Regions from separate parts of the Homo sapiens genome. Here region 1 is linked to region 2. The links come from fine-mapping of genetic effects on gene expression. Tissue or cell type: whole blood. Region 2 holds a variant in brackets; the other region holds the start of a gene. All regions are shown on one strand. Distances are from middle to middle.

The links. PIP is the estimated chance that this variant, and not a neighbour inherited with it, causes the effect.
Region 1: HSPA4 starts here. The variant in region 2 is fine-mapped to the expression of HSPA4 in whole blood (INTERVAL, PIP above 0.99).

What each region holds. Positions count from the first base shown.
Region 1 is chr5:133,048,851-133,056,934 of GRCh38, reverse strand. HSPA4 (heat shock protein family A (Hsp70) member 4) reads right to left here and starts at 4,922. Exons shown (of 19, transcript NM_002154.4): 1 at 4,578-4,922. The coding sequence starts at 4,684. RefSeq lists enhancers at 2,746-3,708, 4,947-5,126, 5,317-5,366, 5,437-5,486, 4,673-5,635.
Region 2 is chr5:133,105,865-133,113,967 of GRCh38, reverse strand. HSPA4 (heat shock protein family A (Hsp70) member 4) reads right to left here. Exons shown (of 19, transcript NM_002154.4): 19 at 7,519-8,103. LOC105379178 (a long non-coding RNA gene) reads left to right here. Exons shown (of 3, transcript XR_948792.2): 3 at 2,453-2,900. Among named protein-coding and RNA genes, the nearest start is that of HSPA4, 58 kb to the right of the region's middle. RefSeq lists an enhancer at 5,402-5,451. The variant G/A (reference allele first, on the strand shown) is at 3,140.

The sequences.
Region 1 (8,084 bases), 57 kb after region 2:
TTTACTGAATCCCAGGCATTATTCTGAGCACTATGGCAAAAAAAAAGGTATAAGTTATAGTTTTAACTCATTATAATTCTCATAATCTCCAATGAAGTAGAGAAATCACATCTGTTCCTACTGCAAATTAATCTGTTATATTTGTGTAAAGAATTCTGGCAATATTACTGAAACTTTAAGTATATACAGTATATCCCTTACCCTAGCAAATTCACCTCTGGAAATCTATACAATAAAAATAAAAGCATTAACATTACAACATAAATATGTAAGGCTACTTATTGAAGAACTATTTGTAACAGCAAAAAGTTAGAAATAACCTGTTTGAAGAAAACGTGTTAGAGCCATAATAAAGAATTTTACAGGCCGGGCGCGGTGGCTCACGCCTGTATTCCCAGCACTTTGGGAGGTCAAGGCGGGCGGATCACTTGAGACCAGGAGTTTGAGACCATCCTGGCCAACATGGCGAAACCACGTCTACCTAAAAATACAAAAATTAGCCGCATGTATGCACATGACCGCAACAATGCACTCCAGCCTGGGTGACAGAGCCAGACTCCGTGTCAAAAAATAATCTTCCCACTGCACCTAGGTAAAAATCATTATTATTATTTACAAGGCTCTGCCTAATTCCTCAGATTCATCTCACAGCATTCTCTCAAGCAGCTGAAAGAGTCGTGGCTGCTCTTCAATGTATCAAGGATGCAGCTCTTCTTGCTCAGGTCTTTCCCACTTGCTGTTCCTTCTGCCTGGAACAACTCTTCCTCAAACCTACTGTGACCTCCAAGGTAAAATCCTACTCATCCTCAGGTCTCAGATGGTACTTCTTTCAAAGCACCTTCTACCCAACTTATTTTTGAGACAGAGTCTCGCTCTGTCACCTAGGTTGGAGTGCAGTGCATGATCTCGGTTCACTGCAACCTCCACCTACCAGGTTCAAGCGATTCTTCTGCCTCAGCCTCCAGAGTAGCTGGGACCACAGGCGCCCGCCACCACACCCAGCTAATTTTTGTATTTTTAGTAGAGACAGGGTTCCAGCATGTTGGCCAGGCTGGTTGCGAACTCCTGACCTCAAGCGATCCTCCTACCTCAGCCTCCCAGAGTGCTGGGATTACAGGCATGAGCTATCGTGCCAGGTCCTTCCATCCAATTTAAATTAGACCCGCTTATTCTATACTCTCACTGTATTCTGTACTTTTCCACCTTGCCCTTTACCACAGTTAGTAATTACTACATATTTTTGTTTAGTATTTGGTTTAATCCACCAGCCATGTCCATAATGGCATGACCTTATTTGTTCACCACAGTACCTCCAGTGCTTAGAAAAATGGCTACCACATCAGAGGCACTCAACATCTGATAAAATGAAGGAAGCCTAAATTGGGTGGAAAATCAAGGGTCTCTTCTGGATGAGACTCCACTGGCTCCTCAAAAACCTAATCCAGATTGTTACACCCATATCTGAAACGAGGTACTTCCACCATCATAAACCCTCTAAGACTTGCATCTCATTTCCACTCTCATGTTAAAACAAACCCACAACATGCAGTCTTTTTTACATATGAGCTCCAAATCCATTCCTCCATAACCGCTACCAAAAAAAAAAAAAAAAAAAAAAAAAAAAAAATCAACCTTCCTGCTACCATTTTCTATTTAGCCCAAGACTCCAAAACAGAGTAATCAAAGTGAATCAAAATCATACAGTTCAGAAATCACTTGAAATGTATGGCATGCCTGTAAGTTAATGAAAACTATGAAGGAAAATATAAAGAAAACATGTAAGGAAAATTATTTAAATGGAATTTTCTTATCACAATTCCGTGGTGTATGGGGTCATATATATCACAATGTCTTTGAGGCAAATTTTTTATCTGCAACAACTCAGTTTCAAATAGAATTCATGGTATAATTGTTGTAGCTATTGTCTTTCTAAAAGAAAAACAGGAGCATGTGATAATAATCTAAAAGAAAGGATAGGAACACTGTTCTTCCCCATACTTGGGATTCTCTTCCTGTGCGCCCTTTGGAACTAAAGCGTGTTCAATCACAGGGCAGGAAAGGACCAAAACACTAAATACATTAACTCAGCGCTTTAGCCTTTTCAGTTCCTTAGGGGAGACATTTTATAGACCAAGAAAACACGGATACAAAGATATTCTCAAATACTAAAATGCTTAAAAACAAACTTTAATGCTTAAAAAAAAACTTCAGGGCACAATACACTTCCCTGGAGATGCCAAGTTAGACTACCCATTGTTAAAAAGTACAAATAGGGAAAATAAACTGCTAAAGGGCACAGGGCTTTGGGGGAGTGATAAAAATGTTCTAAAATTGATTACAGTAATGGTTGCACTGTTTTGTGACTACACTAAAAACGATCACTTCATCTGGTTAAATTGTATAGTATATGAATTAAACCTTAATAAAGCTGTGCCAGGTGCGGTGGCTCACTCCTGTAAACCCAGCACTTTGGAAAGCCGAGGCAGGCAGATCACTTGAGGTCAAGAGTTCGAGCCCACCCTGGCCAACATGGTGAAACCCTGTCTCTACTAAAAAAGACAAAAATTAGCCAGGCGTGGTGGCGCACACCTGTAATCCCAGCTACTCGGGAGGCTGACGCAGGAGAATCGCTTGAACCCAGGAGGCGGAGGCTGCAGTGAGCCGAGATTACGCCACTGCACTCCAGCGTAGGGAACAGAGTAAGACTCCTTTTCTCAAAATAAATAAATAAATAAATAAACCTTAATAGGGCTGTTAACAAGACTAAACTCAGCAAAGGGACAGCAAACTACCGTTTTGGCTTCTGGGATGAGTTTTCAGGGGAAGCACCTGGGTTAGGAGGTGGGGGGTGCGGAAATTTGACAAGTGGAAAGGAAATGTGAGACTTCTGAACAATCTAGTTTCGCTGAAACCTGCTGAAGAAATGTGACAAAAATTGAGGGTGAAAATAATGGACCTTAGAATTGAGCCCCTGGGGCCGGGCACCGTGACTCACGCCTGTAATCCTAGCACTTTGGGAGGCCGAGGCGGGAGGATCACTTGAGGTCAGGAGTTCGAGACCAGCCTGGGCAACTCGACAACACCCCGTCTCTACTAAAAATACAAAATTTAGCCGGGCATGGTAGCACGCGCCTGTAATCCCAGCTCCTCAGGAGACTGAGGCAGGAGAATCGCATGAACCCCAGAGGCCGAGGTTGCAATGAGCCGAGAGCATGCCACTGCACTCCAGCCTGGGGCGACAGAGCGAGACTCCATCTCAATCAATCAATAACAAGTGAGCCCCTGGGCAGGGCACGGTGGTTCATGCCTGTAAGCCCAGTACTCCAGAAGGCCGAGGCTGGAGGACTGCTTGAGTCCAGAAGTTCGAGACCATCCTGAGTGACATAGTGAAACCCGATTTCTACTAAAAATAAATAAAATTAGCCAAGCATGGTGGCGCACGCCTGCAACGCCAGCTACTCAGGAGGCTGAGGTGGGAGAATCACCTGAGCCAGGAGCCAGGGAGGTCGAGGCTGCAGTGAACCAAGATCGCACCACTGCACTCCAGCCTGGGCAGCCAGAGTGAGACCCTGTCTGTCTCAAAAAAGAAAAAAAAAAAAAAAAAAAGAAGAGAGACCCTGAATGGCAAATAATACAGAACTTCTTACAAGATTTTGTCTAAGAACACGACAACGGATTAAAATGTATCTACAAGTATTCAAAAGGCAGACACTGTAACCAGTGAAAGACCTGAGTGACCCACCATTTTTTAGAACTGTGTCTATGCTGGTCCCAAAACTTACTATGGGTTCTAGAAGTCAAGGCGGGCCCTTGAGCCACTAACAATTGTGGCCAACACACTGGTTAGAATGCATTATCGTTAAAGTGCAACCCTATTGAGGGGTTAACGCGCACAAAACAGAGAGTGACCCAATATAGCACAATATCCCGAAATAATGTGGAAAACAAAAGCGATTGCAAAGTTATCATAAGAGCACCGATTTTATTAAATTCCTATCCGTGCCAACCCAATCTCAAGACCCCGAGTCCATCCGGAACCCGTGCCTGAGGCTGCTCCAGCTCGCTCTCTTCCGGGCGCTGCCCCGCCCCCACTCACGTGGGACGCTGACCGCTCCACGGTCTCGCGGCTGGCAAGCCCCAGAACCCGTTCGATTCAACTATTATTAAGCGCCTGCTGTGTGCAAAGTTCTGAGCTTTCTGTTGGACTCAAAAGACTCAGTACGACCTGGGCCTGGTCTCTGCCCTCAAGAAAAGGACCGCGATCCGTTTACATCCTAGGCCTGCAGTCCTTCCAGTTCCTACCCGTGCCCTCCGCTGGTCCGAGTACCGGCCAGAAGCCTTTCTTCGGCCGACGGGCCACCGGGGAAAAGGCCCTCGCGCTTAGCACACACCCACGCTCATAGTGGGCCGCGGCCCCTAGTGTCCTAATACCTACTGGGGGTCCCTGACCTACCGGGACCTCGGCTCGGAACGGAGGCGACTCCTCGGCCCGCGTTCCCCAAGCAGCGAGGGTCCCAGACTGGAACAAGCATTATCTCCTAACCCCAGTGCACGCGGCAGGCCCGGCCCACACTTACGGCGTGCAGCGGTCGCTATACTCATTAGCGATAGTCTCGATGCCGCCGGCGCGGGCCACAGCGACGTAGCAGCTCTGGAAGCCCAGGTCTATGCCCACCACCGACATGGCGCCGGCTACTGCTCGGGCTCGGGCCCGGGTCCGGCCACCGAGACAGGACACGGACCCCCGGCGGGGCTAGCGAGTGGAAAGCAGGCCTCTTGGGCCGAGGCTACTGAGGGGCTTGCGGTGTCCACGCGAGCGCCTAAGTCCTTCCAGTGGGTACTGCAACCGAGAGCGCTGCTCAGGCCGGCTCCGGCTCAGTGGCCGCAGAGGAGGCGCCGGTAGCGGGGGCGGAGAAGATCTCGAAAGATCTCGTTGCGACGAGAGCGGAGCCGCAGCACCAGAGCTACGAAAGAACGGGATGTTCTCGCGATATCCCGGCTCAGGCGCTTTTCCCCTTGAGGCCCCGCCCCCAGTACGTCTGAATACGTCACGTCCTGGCTCGAGAACCTGGGAAAGGACTGGGTGGCTGAAAGATGGCTGGAAAGCGCATTTAGCCAACCGAGCCTGCGCATGGAACCTGCGGCGCTGCACAGCTGCATAGAGATGTGGAGCACCTCCCTTTACCGTAGAAAGTAGGCGAGCCAGCTCGAGGCACTATACTGAGGAAGCGCTGCGGCCTACTTCCGCCGTTTTTCTTAACATCAAAGAAACTTCCGGTAGTGGGGTGTCTTGCATTCCACCGTGTCGGTGCCCCAGAATGAGACGCAAGCTGATCTGCAGATCCCGCAGGGTGCCTTCTGCTCTTTTCGGGGCAGGTTGGCCGGTAGGGGAGAAGGCCGCCATTGGAACGCGGCCTTTATGTCGGGTTCTCTCAAGAGTCTAAGATCGCACCCTCACCAGCGGAGGGAAGGAGCCCACTCCCAGCCACACCGCTTTGTTTTCTTTCGCTTAGCCTTGTTGCGCCGTTCTCTAAGCCACTCATGTCCTTAGATCAGATTGAGGGGCCCGCAGGATTTAAGCCTTTAATCCACAGCACATTCCAAGCACCTACCCGGTGGTAGGCCCTAACAAGGAACACAGGCAAGTGACACGCTGCCTGGCCTGAAAGGTCCGCTCAGACCTTTACATGAAGTTAATAAATGTTAAGCTTCAGGGCCCCTCGCTTGTATGGCCTCCTGGGAGAATAGATAGTTGCTGAGTTGTGGAGAGGGGAAGCCAGCTTGAGATTAGGAAGCAAATCTATGTAAGCATTTCTAATAAATTACCCAGAGAGATCTAAGGAGAATCTGAATCTCCAAGTCTCTAGTAATGTGTTGTGATTTGTCGTTTTAATTATTTGTTTTGTGTATTTGTAGGGCCCCCCAATGGTATATAAGTTTCACCTCTGCAAAACCTGGATCATCCCCATCATGAGGGTGGCTAAACAAGTAAAGGTGACCCCAGTACAGAATGGCGAGTGCTATATGCACAGAATGGTGGAGACTAGGACAACTTCCCAGAAAAGGAAAAGGCTGTGTTCAAGTTTGGAAAACTAGCAATAGAGACCATAGTTTAAGGACTAAAAAGAAATTCTCCGTTGCTGGAGGGTACATCATGAGTTGAAGGTCTCAAGGCTAGAGTACCTGCCCTTCAGCCATTTTAAAAGTGAATGAGCAAAGAAGAAATTACATTGCCCTGGTATGCCCTTCCCTTTAAATACCTGCATTTCCTGCCACCTCCGGAGGTACTTCACTCTATAGGAGCAACCCCAAACCCGGGTTGATTACCATTAAAACTTGCAAATGGCCACACTGTTCTCACATTTTGCCTAACTAAAACCTGTTAATTCTTCAAAGACAAGTACCAGGTGCTACCTGTAAAAGGGTACTGGGAATAAAAAGAGTAGAGGCAGCCAGGAACAGCCTTTGGAAAAACGAGAGCAGGGACATATTTGTACATTGTATACCCATGTTCATAGTAGTTTATTCACGGTAGCTAAAAGGAGGAAACAATCCACATGTCCATTGACAGATGAATGAGTTTTCTAAATTTAGTGTATACGCGTAACAGTACATTATACAGCTTTGAAAAGACAAAGGAATGAAAGTCTGATAAATGCTACAGCATGAATGAACCTTGAAAATACGCTAAGTGGAAAGCCAAACAAATCAAAATTAATTTTTTTTAATTTTTAATTTTATATTCAAAATTTAATATGATTCCACTTGTATCAGGCACCTACAATAAACTACATAAAGACAGAAAAGCGGTTTCACAAGTAGAGTGAAATGGAGAGTTAAGGGATACAGAGTTTCAGTTTGGGAAGATGAGAAAGTTCTGGAGATAGATGCTGGTGGTAGTTGCATAACAATGTGCATGATCAGTGACAGATTTGTACATTTAAAAATGATGAAAATGGTAAATTTTATGTATATTTCACCACAATTTTTTAAAGTTTTTTTAAGTTAGGTTGACCTTGACCTTCCTTCCTCTGTTTTTCTCCTACCTAGGGGCAATATCAATAATACCAAGCACACTGTTGACCTTAATTATGACAGAGTCCTGTCTCCATCTGTTTATCTCAGTTGTTAATCACTGAGCAAACAACCCGAGCTGCCTAAGCTAAAGTGTCCAGTGGACCTAAAAGATCACTGTCTGTGTTACTGCCTGTTTCTGCCTTCCTTCTATTGGAAGACCTCCCTAGGTCTTAGCTAAGTTGATGAAAATTACACCCATATCTTATTATGTTCCAACTTCATACCTCAACTGCCTTGTTTGCCTTGGTACTGCTTTCAGTTTAAAATACCACCAGCCCTATCAATCTTTTTAATGATTTGTCCTTCTCAAAATAAAACATAACTACCATCAGTCACAGAGAGTACTCATCCTCCTATAAATAGTTTCCTGGATCATCAAACTTATAGCTTAAGAGATTATTCTGGGATATTTAAATAAATGAAGTCAGGAAAAGGTTATTTTAGAATCCTGAAGAATCTAACGTGGCAAGTTTCCAAGTATCACAGTTGCGAACCAACGAAGTGTCCAGAATATTTAATGTTGGAGGCACTGTGTTCGGAGAACAAATTCTTTCCATTTGGCAGAGTATCTTAGGTATTTAAGTATTTTAAAAGCAGGAAGTTGTTAAATGCCACTCTCAAATACAACGATTAAATTTAGTCCTAAGCAATCACAGAAGTGTTTGTTTTTAAATATACAGTGTTCATAGGCTGCCCAACAAAAGACAAAAGGTTCTCCATCAGCTGGGGACTCATATTTCTCCCTGACAAGTGTCCAGTGGAATCCTGCCCTACGCTCTGGAGCAGCTTCTGCAATTTTTTGCTTCACAAGGAAACTACCTGCTCAGATAATGGTGATTTTCTGACTTCCCTGATCTTACAGTGAGTGGAGCAATGCTTTTAGTCAAAGCAACAACCCTTTCTTAAACACCAAAACTCCAATAACTCAATAATAATGGTAATTACCATGTCTCTGGCATTCCTACAGCATATGCTAGCATTACGCCAGACACTGTATTGATACCAAT
Region 2 (8,103 bases):
TGTGGGTACCATTAGAGAAGGGACCTTAACCTGGCAAACATCTCCTCCACCCTGGGGAAGCTTTCCACCTGGCCAGGAAAAAGACACACGTGGATAAAGAAGTCACAGACGTGCCAACTACTCAGCGAGGCCAGGGAGCCAGGAGCATCATGGAGATAAGCCAGCCGCCCGGAGAAGAGCTGCTCCACACACTAGCACTGGCCACAACCAAGCTAGGGCCAAGTCACATAGCCCACAAGACACAATGTCCTGTGTTCAGAAACAGTTCCAGAGAGATACCAAACTTTCTTTGGCATTTCTTCAGAAACGCTTGTGCCTCTCCCTCTCCTCCTACTCCTCACCATTGTACTCAGCCTCGCTCTTTCCACCTCCCGCCCACAACCTCCATCACCCGCAGCTGTTTGTGATGTGAATCAGCAGCCCCAGTTATTTCTCCTTTACCCGTCACCCGGACTCTCTATCCACAGAACAAAAGCAGCAGGCTCACCTGGGAGCTTGTTAGAAATGAAACTCCAGGACCCCACTGAAGACCTATGGAATCTGAAACTTGGAGGGCGGGCCCAGTCATCTGTGTAACCAGGCCCCCAGGGGATTCAGATGCACACTCGAGCCACTGCTTTACCTCAAAGGAGAGCCTGGGAGCTGGTCCACAAGGAGATTCCTCCCACCCTTTCTCCTCCACCTCTCCTGTGTTGTCTCTTCTGCCCATTTTCCAGATTGGGCATTATAGAAATCTGCAAAATAAGATGACCAAGACCGAACTTGTAGACAGTGATGAATGCCAAGGGGCAATCCTCTTTGAAGGAAGGGGGGAACCCTCATACACCAAGAAATCTTGTCTTTTTTTTTTTTTTTGAGACAGAGTCTCGCTTTGTCGCCCAGGTTGGAGTACAGTGGTGCAATCATGGCTCACTGCAACCTCTGCCTCCCAGGTTCAAGCAATTCTCATGCCTCAGCCTCCCAAGTAGCTGGGATTACAGGCACCCGCCACCACACCAGGGTAATTTTTGTATTTTTAGTAGAGACGGAGTTTCACCATGTTGGCCAGGCTGGTCTCAAACCCCTGACCTCAGGCAATCCACCTGCCTCAGCCTCCCAAAGTGCTGGGATTATAGCATGAGCCACCACACCCGGCCTTCTTGTCTCTTTTATGCCATGCATATTTGGCCTCTCCACCACAAGTTAGGCAAGGAAATAAAACTGGGCCTCAGGAGCCTCACACGGAGCCCAGGCATTCTGAAGCTCTTCCTCACTTTTCTACAGCAGATGTCCAGGATTCAGAGGCAAATCGCTGCTTTCTAGGAGTCTCTACCCACAGCTACAGAACTCCACCTTGAACAGGGGTCAGTGTGTTGTTCCTGCTCCTTGCTGAAGCTACTAATAGGATCACACGAGGCTGAGTCCATTGGACTGGCTCAAGTCAAAAGGAAAGAGGGACCTCCGTTCCTCCATCCAGGTGGGATGGATTCACGTGTCACCCCAGGGGCAGGAAGCAGCACTCCCTCCCCATCCGGGGACTATGACCATGTCACACGGGAGGGCGGTACATCTTTGGTTCTTAGGTTGACTTTCTACCTTGTTCCTCTGGAGCCTGGGCTCCTGGTGGGGTAAGGACAAGAAAGGCCAGGAGGCTATGGTAACTCGGACTACTTATGTCTGGGTCAGCTACTCTGCACTTTAAAGGGCAAGTTGCACACCTGTTGTGAGCAATACCTTTGTTCTTCCTGTCTTCAGTGCCTTCCGCATGCATCATCTCACATGCCGGACAGGCCTGGTGTTACCCCCGTTTTACAGGCGAAGGAACTGAGGCTCCTATAGGTTGTCTTTCTCAGTCAAAGCACAGTCCATGATAGGCATCTCCTGGGAACTTGATAGAAATGGACTCTTCGCCGGGCATGGTGGCTCACACCTGTAATCCCAGCCCTTTGGGAGGCCAAGGCAGGTGTATCACGAGGTCAGGAATTCAAGACCAGCCTGGCCAAGATGGTGAAACCCCATCCCTACTAAAACTACAAAAATTAGCCGGGCGTGGTGGCAGGCACCTGTAATCCCAGCTACTTGGTAGCCTGAGGCAGGAGAATCGCTTGAACCCGGGCAGCAGAGGTTGCAGTGAGCTGAGCTCGCGCCACTGCACTCCAGCCTGGGTGACAGAGTGAGACTCCATCAAAAAAAAAAAAGAAAGAAAGAAAAGAAAAAAAATGGACTCTTCAGCCCCACTCTGACCTGCTGAATCAGAATCTGCATTTTAGCAAGATCCCCAGGTATACTGAGAAGCACTGGGCTGGGATCTACCTGAGGTCTGGGAGCAGTCCAAGATTCTTCTTTTTAACAGTGATGTCATACTTTGGGTGGTAAGGACCTAAGAGATTAGTAGCAAAAGGCCTACTTTCTTGCTTGAGCCCCTGCTTGCTAGCTTGAGGACTCTGTTAAACCATACTTATTTTGCTTTTAGCTACCCAGAAGGAGAGGAGGTGGCCGTCTGTGTTCTCCAAACTTCTGGGACTCCTCAAGGAGTGAAGTCTGATCTACGCACGGAACCAACCACCACGGCAAAGGAAGAGCGATGGCGCCCCCATGTGGCAACACAAGCACTGCGATTTCACACAAGACCAAATCAGAATTGGCCGGAGGGGAACGTCAGATTCTTAGGGAGTGTTACTCCAACTAATGCTACACTCAGGGCGACTTCTTGGAAGGCAAAAGCCCCATAGTCTAGCCATACAACTTTCCAGAAAAGTAGCACTCTTCAAAACAGCTGGCATTAAAATTCTTGGCTCTGCCATCCACCCGTTCTGTGAGACTCTTTCCTCATCCCCAAAAATGGAAGGTCTGATGACTTCAAAAAGAGTTTTACCGTTTTTCCCCTCATTGAAAATAATAGAAAACAGTAAAATACTGCATTTCTGCCTTCAAGTATTCACTGAGCGCCTTCTCCATTCCCTGCTTCTTGCCGGGCTGCACGGAGGCAGCTGTAACCCAGGCAGAGTCCCTCCTTCAGTTGTGGGATGTAGAAGACAAGGACAGGACCAGTCACAGAGGAAAGACCTTCACTCATGCTGCGGCCTCCTTTACCACTGCATGGGCCCTTTCAACTTTCCTAACCCAGACAGCTCACCGGCTCCTCATGGCAGCCTTACAC[G/A]GGTCCTACAAAGCTCCCCACTGGCACTCCTGAAAGGTACCCTATAACTGGAACCATCCTTTTGTGGAATATATACTGACCCAGCTCATCCTTAGAAATCCTTTGCTGGGATTTACATCCTGGAAGCTGGGCCACTGACTGGTCTTCCAAGACCATCTGTTTCCAGCTTTCTCTTCTGCAAGCATTAGCTGAGTCTAATTTAAATAATAGATATTTTAAAATACATTTTAAAGTTCATGTAGAAAAAAAAATGGGAGACCTCCAGTATGTGGTGAGTAAAGGTCTGCTTACTTGTGATAAAGTACTTGCAGTGCTTTCTCTCCCTCAACTGATCCAGGACTCCAAATCTAATAGTCCATCTCGCCCTTGAAGGATGTAAACCCAGACACACTAGTGAACAGGCCCGATAAAAACACAGCTTTCTGTAGTCTTTTCTGTGTTGTGTTTGAAGCTGGCGAATGCCACTTACGAAGGGAGAGTAAAGAGTCTCTACTCACCCTGTCCTAATGACGTGTGCTGAAACTGGAGGAATAAGGTCAGGATTAGCCTGGCACTTGCCCATGGATATTGAGCAAATCTGGAAAGCATTCTGTATTTTTTTAAATACTCTGAGGTCTTTCCTTCCCTGATCCTCCAGAAATTTACACCCTCCTTTATCTTTCCAGATGTGTTGCTTGTACCTCAACTTGGCCATTTTCCCTATTTGCCTCCTAGACTGATGCTTAAGAAGTCACCTCTTTAGTTTCTACACTTCTTGCAATATCTGCTCAAAATAGCAGTTCACAAAAACAGTGGCATTCCAGGTTAGAGGGTCATGGCCCAGGGCTGCCCCAGCCAAAGCCAAGTACATCCAAGGAATGTACTGGCAACTCCAAGATTCCCAATGGTCTCAAGTAAGTGGTGGGAACCATCCCCATTTACACACAGGACACTGCCCAACCTCCTTTCTCGCAGACTGATGCCTCATTTCAGAGGCCAAGCTTCTTTTTTTTTTTTTTTTTTTGCTTTTTTTTTTTTATTTTTTTTTTTTATTTTTTTTTTTTTAATTTATTTTTTTATTGATAATTCTTGGGTGTTTCTCACAGAGGGGGATTTGGCAGGGTCATGGGACAATAGTGGAGGGAAGGTCAGCAGATAAACAAGTGAACAAAGGTCTCTGGTTTTCCTAGGCAGAGGACCCTGCGGCCTTCCGCAGTGTTTGTGTCCCTGATTACTTGAGATTAGGGATTGGTGATGACTCTTAACGAGCATGCTGCCTTCAAGCATCTGTTTAACAAAGCACATCTTGCACCGCCCTTAATCCATTTAACCCTGAGTGGACACAGCACATGTTTCAGAGAGCACAGGGTTGGGGGTAAGGTCACAGATCAACAGGATCCCAAGGCAGAGGAATTTTTCTTAGTGCAGAACAAAATGAAAAGTCTCCCATGTCTGCTTCTTTCTACACAGACACGGCAACCATCCGATTTCTCAATCTTTTCCCCACCTTTCCCGCCTTTCTATTCCACAAAGCCGCCATTGTCATCCTGGCCCGTTCTCAATGAGCTGTTGGGCACACCTCCCAGACGGGGTGGTGGCCGGGCAGAGGGGCTCCTCACTTCCCAGTAGGGGCGGCCGGGCAGAGGCGCCCCTCACCTCCCGGACAGGGCGGCTGGCTGGGCGGGGGGGCTGACCCCCCCACCTCCCTCCCGGACGGGGCGGCTGGCCGGGCAGAGGGGCTCCTCACTTCCCAGTAGGGGCGGCCGGGCAGAGGCGCCCCTCACCTCCCGGACAGGGCGGCTGGCTGGGCGGGGGGGCTGACCCCCCCACCTCCCTCCCGGACGGGGCGGCTGGCCGGGCAGAGGGGCTCCTCACTTCCCAGTAGGGGCGGCCGGGCAGAGGCGCCCCTCACCTCCCGGACAGGGCAGCTGGCTGGGCGGGGGGGCTGACCCCCCCCACCTCCCTCCCGGACGGGGCGGCTGGCCGGGCGGGGGGCCGACCCCCCCACCTCCCTCCCGGACGGGGCGGCTGAGGCCAAGCTTCTTGACCAAGTACTCAGCACCTGCAGCCTCACCTCAAGCCCCTTCACCCCACCCAGCTCCCACCCTACTGAAGCATCTAACCCTGCTGGCCACTGCCACATCTCACATCTCTAGCTCCCTTCCTCCCAACATGCTTTATGCATCATAACTCCTCTCTGGCAGTTCCTTCTTTCAAAGCTTTTACTTCCTCTTCCTAACACATCTCAACACAAGCCTTCATCCCGTCAATGAGGAACACGACTCCAGCCCCAAAAGCTTCCATCCACACCCACCTGGAGCTTCGATGTCTCAACCCCACCCAGGAAAACTTCTCAATCTAAACTCCCACCACATCTCCAATGACTCAAGACTAGAAGCTCCACATGTACAATCATATCCCGTATTCTAGGTTTGAAACCTTGGAGCCATTCTTCTTAAAACACACTTCTAGTTTTCTTAACATTATAAAATTCCTAAATGCTTTTATTAGTGACAGGAGGCGGTGGGGGGTAGGGGCTTGTCTCCCCATGTTGCCCAGGCTGGTCTTGAACTCCTGGACCCAAGAGATCCTCCCACTTTGGCTGGGATTACAGGCATGAGCCACCATGCCTGGCCCTAAATGCTTATTGTAGCAAACTCTGAAAACAGAAACAAGCAAAAATAAACAATCACCCACAATCCCACCCTAAAAACCACTTCATCTGGGAAAATCCTTCTGGCTTTTTTATTGCAAACCCATTTAATGTTCTTTCAAAACATGAGAGGCTATGTAGTTTTATAACCTACATTGTGTGTGTAAAAATGTAGGCCAGGCATGGTGGCTCACACCTGTAATCCTGGCACTTTGGGAGGCCAAGGTGGGCAGATCACAAGGTCAGGAGTTCGAGACCAGCCTGGCCAATACAGTGAAACCCTGTCTCTACTAAAAATACAAAAATTAGCAGTGCGTGGTGGCGCACGCCTCCAGTCCGTTACTCGGGAGGCTGAGGCAGAAGAATCACTTGAACCCGGGAGGCAGAGGTTGCAGTAAACCAAGATCCCGCCACTGCACTGCAGCCTGGGTGACAAAGCGAGACTCCATCTCAAAAAAAAAAAAAAAAAATACACACCTTTCTGTTAAAGCCACTTAAAATTATTGAAATAGATCAAGTGTACATGAGTACACTATCAAGTCAGATCAAAAAACAAGCATCACCAAGCCTCACATCATGTTGTCACTACTCCACAAAGAGTAACTACTATCCCAACTTCTAAAGCATGGTTTTCAGCTGGAACCATGCTTACATCTTCCCTCTTCCTGCAGGTACCAAAACCAGCAATTTTCCCCTTCATTTGGCTGTCCCCTCAAAGGTGGACTAAGTCCCACTACCTCCAACAACCCCCAGGCCCCCTGTGCCCCTGCAAAGCAGCTCCCACTGCCCCACAACAGAACCCTGATCTCTCAGGCCCCCACCTTTTAAGGAGACAGGGTATCACTTTATCACCCAGGCTGGAGTTGCAATAGCACAATCTCAGTTCACTGCAGCTTTGACCACCTGGGCTCAAGTGATCCTCCTGCCTCAGCCCCCCAAGTATCTGGAATCACAGGTGCACACCACCACACCCAGCTATCTCAGCTCTTTCTACCACATCTAACAATTCCCCTACAGAAACCACTTACATGCTCAGGAGGAAACCAAACCTACTAGACACACGTTTCTCAGACACGTGGCTACAATAGGCCCTGGGTAGGCCCTGGCAGGTAAGCTGCTCCTACAGCCAGAGGACTAGGACTGTGCAAGGGGCATGACCCAGGGAACAAGACCCCTGACCCCTCCTCGTCTAGACCCATGCCTTATCCAGTTAAGGTCTTTTTCACTGGCTTAGTGCCCTTTAAACACCCATCACCACCACATACATACACCAACACACATTCCACGCAGCCACACCACACATCCAGTGGCGCCAACTATTCTAGCACACTCTGGACCGCGCTGTTCTTTGGCCAGGTGTAAGTCCTAGCACTTACCTTTATGCCATAACCCCCGCCTTCTGCTAACAAAACCCTCAAAGTAAGGCCCAGTCACAGGAGCAAGACAAGGATTCCTAACACCAAAGGAACTGGGCCAAGACTCAACTGGAGAGTTTGAGTACAGAAAAATTAGGCAACATTTTCTCACAAAGTAGGCAGTGTGCTTCAGCTGTCACTCTTCAGACTGGAAGTCTTCAACGGATGTTAAGTGAAATTTAGCTCAGAGGGTTCCTACTCCTAGAGAACATTTTTATTGAAAACACACCCCCCGCCCCCACCCCACACACACATACACACAGACACACACACATACACACACACCCCCACACACACACCCAGCAGCCTTCATTATGGAATTAAGGAAACCATTCAAGTTTAAGACAGGTTTATTTTATTAGTTTTTCCTAAACTTGTCTCATGTTTACTGAATGATTTTCTTAGTGTAAGAACGTGACCTGGAGCTTTAACAAATCAGTTTGGATAACGCAACCTGGATAAATGCTTGTCTGTACACAAGCCATCAATTACCACTCTCTGTCCTGGCCTCCATGAAAATCCAATTGGTCTTAAAGCCTGTCTAAGCAGAGAGCAAGCAGACCACATCATCGTGTTTCAACTTGAAATTCACCCCCATCCCAGCACCCACACCCTTCCCCACACACACACACACACACACCAAAAAAAAAAAAAAAAAAAAAAAAAAAAAAAAAAAAAATTTTTTTTTTTTTAAGAAGAAATGGCCATTACGGTCTGGGCCAGTTGTAAAGGGTTGGCTTAATCCTGCAGCCAGCACTTTTAAAATAGCTACTGGCTTCACAGCAGGCCAGCTGGAACTCTTGAAGCATGACAGGTAGAGAACAGAGGATGTGCTAAGAACCTGGCCTTGTTGTGGTGCCTCGAGGCCTCCATGCATGCTTACACACCAACATAAGTATACTTTCCCCTTCCTCCTC